Regions from separate parts of the Homo sapiens genome. Here region 1 is linked to region 2. The links come from fine-mapping of genetic effects on gene expression. Tissue or cell type: whole blood. Region 2 holds a variant in brackets; the other region holds the start of a gene. All regions are shown on one strand. Distances are between the middles of the regions. Region 1 holds the start of QDPR (quinoid dihydropteridine reductase). Region 2 has its middle 35 kb from the start of QDPR.

Region 1 (2,804 bases), 35 kb before region 2:
TCAACTTTTGGTGTTTTGAGGGTTAAGCAATTGTTTTCAGAAAAACTCTAAGGGAAACACTTGATTCCCAACAAGCCTTTGTCTTGCTGAACAAAGGTGTGGTTAAGTGGAACTCTAGCTATTGAAGACCTGTGTTCAAATTCCCACTCTTCCAGACAAGTGTCTGTGACTCTCATGCCTCAGCTTTCTAATCTGCATAGGATTATCGTGTGGAGTAAAGTGAAATAGCACAGGCAGATCACTTAGCGCAGTGCCTTGGATATAAGGAGCACTAAATAGATGGTGCTCTCCTCTCCATCCAGCCTCCTAGCAGTTCTATTTCTGATAATGAAGCTTCTGACAACAAAATGTGCTGCTGGCTGCATCCTCTTCTCTAGTGACATATTTCTGCATGCTTTACCTGGCACAAGTTTACTGAACAAACATCTGTGTCTGCTGTGTACAAGGTTATATGTGGATGGGAAGTGACACAAAGATGTATGTAATACAGGGTTCTGCTATCAAGAAGGTTATGAGAGTGTTAGAGCTCTGGTTCTCTATCAGTGATGAATTTGCCCCTAGGAGACAACTGTTAAATCTGGAGATATTTTTGATTCTTATGAGTGAGGGGTAGGGGTTTGCTATTGATTTCTAGTATATGCAGGCCAGGGATGCTGTAAATATCCTACAGTACCCAGGGCAGCACCTGTCACAAATAATTATCTGGCCCAAAATGTCAGTAGTGCTGTAGATGAGAGGCTCTGTGTTAAAGATACAGGCCATGGGCAGAAATAACTAATATACAAGGGAGAAAATGCCAGGATCTGTGTCTGGCGATGGGTGGCATATAGTAAAAGGGCCATTTGGATTAATGGGTATAAATTTACGGTTAGATAGAAGAAATAAGACCTAGTGTGGTTTGTCTCGTCTCGGCGGTGGACTTTCAGCTCCTTGAGCGGAGCGACCTCTTCTGTTTTTTTGGCAGGTGGGAATACTTAAATCTCTATTTTGATGCACAATTAAAAATAAAAAATTGCCAAAACAGTGGTCGAAAATTGTACTATACTATATTTTACATGCTTACACTTCACAAATTAATGCTCGTAAAACACCCGCTCTCCACCCTCCTCGCCCTTAGCCCGGCTCGCTGCACGCCCCGAGGCCCAGCACTTGCTGGCGGGTGGGAGGAGGGGCTTCGCCGATGTCCCCGTCCCAGGGGCAGGGCCTGGCCGAAGTTACAGTCCCTCCGGGTGGCGGGGCGCCCCGAGCGTGGCAGCGCGCTAGGCGGCAGCAGCGGGCGCGGAGCGGGGCGCGGCCGCCGCGCGTTCCCTCTTGGCGGGGTTGGCCGGCCGGGGCGGGGCGCGGCGCTCCGGCTCGAGGCATTCGGAGCTGCGGGAGCCGGGCTGGCAGGAGCAGGATGGCGGCGGCGGCGGCTGCAGGCGAGGCGCGCCGGGTGCTGGTGTACGGCGGCAGGGGCGCTCTGGGTTCTCGATGCGTGCAGGCTTTTCGGGCCCGCAACTGGGTAATGCTGCGGGCTGGGGCTGCTGGGTCTCCGCGGGGGTGGCCGGGGGCTTTCGTGTGGAACCCGGCGGGGGGCAGTCTAGAGGAAGGTGGGGGCCCCTGTGCACCCCCTGACTCGTGTTGCTTGCACGTGCGCGCACAGGTCTACGCGTCTATTCCTGTTTCCGAGTGCGTGCGCACGCCAGTCCCAGGGCGCTGGGCCTTTGCTGTGCAAGGAGGTGCTCCGTGGGCCTCCGCCAGACCCAAAAAGTCCGGCGTGACTCGGGAGAGAATTCCAAAGGGGAGGAACGGGAGCAGGGGTGAGAGGACGGAGAGAGAGTGTAGAAGGAAGGCTCTAGAATGAGACAGCCCAGTCCCGGTTACTAGTCATGAGACCGCGTATTGATTACCTAACGCCGTAGGACCTCGGTTTCCCCATTTGTACAACGGAGATTCTGACAGTGAGAGTTGGGACGATTAGATGAGATAATTGGTGTCGTTGCACATAAATTACCTGACGCCTGGTAAAAACTGTTTAAATGCTGTCTATTAATGTTACTATTACTACCCACCCCTGTTCTTTTAGCCCCATTGGATCTGACAGTTTGAAGGCTCAGCACGGAAAAACGCTGACGGCTTCTTTGCTCTGCAAAGACTATTTCAACTACTTTGCATAGTCAGGTGTCAATTTCCAGGAGGCGGCAAGTCGGAGCAGAGCTGATACATGGCCAAAGACCCTTGACCTCAGCCGCTCAGCAGGCCTCAGCAATTTCCCGGTGGAGACACTGCCAGCGGCAGCGTTCTGGGAGCTTAGTTAGCAGCAGCAGCACAGCAGCCTGGGCAAGAGTTCCCCTGGGACCAGAAAAAGGCTTTCAGGATTTTCTTTAAAAAAAAACTATCTAATTTTTATAGATGAAGGGGGCAAAAGTACAGTTTAGTTACATGGATATGTTGTGTAGTGGTGAAGTCTGGGCTTTTAGTGTAACCATCACCCAAATAGTGTACATTTACCAAGGTTTTCTTGTTGCTCAGAATCTGGTACAGGAATATGCTTCTGAAGAATTCAGTCACACCACTCCCTTCCTGCCACCCATCTGCTCAGTGCTTGGGGACACTGATGAGGGCGCTTTCCCAGGTCTTCAGAGATGCATGGTGGTGACAGAGGCAGCACTTCTGCCAAGGGCCAGGCACTGTGTTCCCAGTACCAGAGTTCCCATAGACTCTTAATGCCCCCAATATCTTTAAGGCAGTAGATCCTGTTAGCGTCATGTGTTAGAGGGTGAAGGCTGTGCTTTCTCCTGGTGGTGGCACTTTGGTTTACCTTG
Region 2 (2,804 bases):
TTGCCGTCACCACGTAAGAAGTGCCTTTTGCCTCCCGCCATGATTCTGAGGCCTCCCCAGCCATGTGAAACTGTAAGTCCAATGAAGCCTCTTTTTCTTCCCAGTCTTGGGTATATCTTAATCAGCAGCGTGAAAACGGACTAATACAGACCCTATCTCAAAAACAAACAAAAAGAGATTGCACATTGGCACTTGGTCCCTGAATGTGCTAATGATATGTGGCATTCATGGGCCATCTGCTGTGTGTGTGGGGTTTTACATACATCCTTCCTTGTATATCCTTAAGGCATTCACCTCTTCAGCCTCCAGGATGGGAAGGTTTTTGCAGGAATGTATCTTTTCCTCTCTTGAGGTCCTCACTTGCTCCTCACCATAGGAGGAAGGACGGATTTATCTGATTGGAGAGACTGTAAATAAAGACTGACTGGAACATATGGACCAGGGGCGGGTCTGCTGCATGGACTTTGGGCTGTGTGGGTTGCTCACTCTCCTGCCCTCTTCTTGCCTATGCAGAACTGATTTCTCACCTCTACCTTCCTGTCTGTTCCTGGTGGGTTAGGAACGTAGAGGAGAGAAGGGATGAAGATTAGTTTCTCTTACCCCCTGAAGCATTATTTTTCACAGTGCCTCTCCACCTGTTCAGTGTTGAGTAAGTGCTGAATGAGTGGACAGGGAAACAGCCTTGGAGAAGCTTACTATCCCGCACATCCCTACTAAGTGATGCAAATGAGTCAGGGAGCCGGGGTCCACACCCAAGCGCCACCCTTGGTGGTTTGTATGATTCTCTGGTTAGGGAGGCATGACGGTAACATCTCCTCCTGTTTATTCCTGCCATCTGCTGCTTTGTCCGCCTCTCATCTCCTTGGTGGCTTCCTCCATGCAGCAGGTTGGTGGACACAGGTGCACTTTGTTCACTACCTGGCCCTGCCACACCGTAGTTATGGGACCACGAGCAATGGGCCAGCCTTTGGCCTCTTTTCTCACATTTATTGCTTGCCCTTCTCAGTCCCAGTCTGCATGTCAGGCACCACATTTTCCAGGCTCCCCTGTCCCTGGCTTCCTGTAGGGTCAGGCAGTTGGGGGCCTGGTAGAGAAAGGGAGGATGGGGAGAGGGGAGAAGCACAGTATCCCCATTACCCCTCCTGCCTCAGTGGCATCTCAGGGGCAGTGGTGACGTCTTCAGCTGTGG[T/CT]GCGTCTCCTCTGTTTTCCCCGCTCCCACTGACTGGCTCCTTCCTCGGTGGAAGCAGCTCCCCAGGGCCTGCCCACGGCTCTTCCTTTGATTCTCAGCCCTTGAGTTGCAGTGGCTTCTCACTGTTGCTCATCTCTGGGTCGCTTCATTGTCCCCTGTTTGGATTCTGGATTTTTCCGTCTCTGATATGACCCATCCTCTTTATTAAATTTCCTCTGTTGGAGTGGTTCTGTTTTCTGGCTGGTCCCTGACCGATGTAGTGTCCTATCAGTAAAATGGGAGTGCTACCATCTCCCTTATGGTGTGGCTGTGGGTATTCAGTGAGATGGCAGCTGGTTAGTATTTACCGTTTTTTTCTGTACTTCAGAGGGAAGAGTGGGCCTCTCTGGGAAACAGTGCCTCTGACTTCTGCATTTTTAATTTGCCCCAAAGCCATTAGTTCTTAATTTCAGTTTCTACTTGTTGCAATGATAGGGTGGTAGCAATATCACCACTCACCCTTCTGGAATAGCCTGGGGCCTGGGGAGAGGTGTTCCCGGTGTGGTCACATTCTGTGGCAGATTGTGTCTAGCTGGGGACTTGGGCAATATGCTGCTGTCACCTATGAGTGTTTTTAAGTCACAGCTGCTTAAAATCTCAGGAAATAGAAAGCGTCTAAGTGAAGTGAATGGTGTGGCTGCATGCTGCCTTTCAAAGTGCGACGGACAGCCTCTCCTGGGGGCTTGGCAAAAGAATTGGGAAGGGTCAGTTTCGGAGGCTCTGTCCATGGGAGGAAACTGGTGCTGAGTCCAAGTTTTTTCCCCTTCAGGTCAATTTCTATTGTAATACCATCACTTAGATGTAAAATAAAGGCCACTGGGGGGCATTTTAGAGACAGAGACGGTGGGGAGCAAAGCTCCGTGGGGGATAAAGAAAGCACATTAGACAGAAAATCCTACTGTGCCGGGGGTTTCTGCTGTCCTAGAGCTCTGTGCAGGGGATTATTGGAAGAAACTTAATGTTTTTCTTTTCTCTTCTCTTCTTTTCTCTTCTCCTTCCTTCTTTTCTTTCTTTCCTTCCTTCCTTCTTTCTTTCTTTCTTTCCTTCTTTTTTTTTTTTTTGACAGTCTTGCTCTGTCGCCCAGGCTGGAGTGCTGTGGTGCGATCTTGGCCCAATGCAACCTCCACCTCCCGGGTTCAAGCGATTCTCCTGCCTCAGCCTCCCAAGTAGCTGGGATTACAGGCACCTGCCACCACGCCTGGCTAATTTTTATATTTTTAGTAGAGACGGGGTTTCTCCATGTTGGCCAGGCTGGTCTTGAACTCCTGACCTCAGGTGATCCACCTGCCTTGGCCTCCCAAAGTGCTGGGATTACAGGCGTGAGCCACCATGCCAGGTCTGAAACTTAATGTTTTTCTAGAATGTTCTTAGCATTGAGCGAGCCTCTATATAGTCTGGAGATACTCCTGGACTAAGCAAGTCCCTTTCTGGCCTCTGCCTCAGTTTTCCGTTTCTGGCAGAATTTCCTACTGCATTTTTGCAAATTATTTTTTTAGCTCTGGATAAAGTAATTTGGACTGAAAATCTGAGTAAGAGAAGAATTAAGATATCCCATCTCAATGGTTATCTAAGAACTG

The links. PIP is the estimated chance that this variant, and not a neighbour inherited with it, causes the effect.
Region 1: QDPR starts here. The variant in region 2 is fine-mapped to the expression of QDPR in whole blood (TOPMed, PIP 0.97). The same link has a PIP of 0.9 or more in lung.

Annotation. Positions count from the first base shown.
Region 1 is chr4:17,510,647-17,513,450 of GRCh38, reverse strand. It overlaps QDPR (quinoid dihydropteridine reductase), which reads left to right and starts at 1,361. Exons shown (of 7, transcript NM_000320.3): 1 at 1,361-1,501. The coding sequence starts at 1,397. RefSeq lists a silencer at 1,153-1,732.
Region 2 is chr4:17,475,910-17,478,713 of GRCh38, reverse strand. No RefSeq gene overlaps it. Among named protein-coding and RNA genes, the nearest start is that of QDPR, 35 kb to the left of the region's middle. The variant T/CT (reference allele first, on the strand shown) is at 1,190.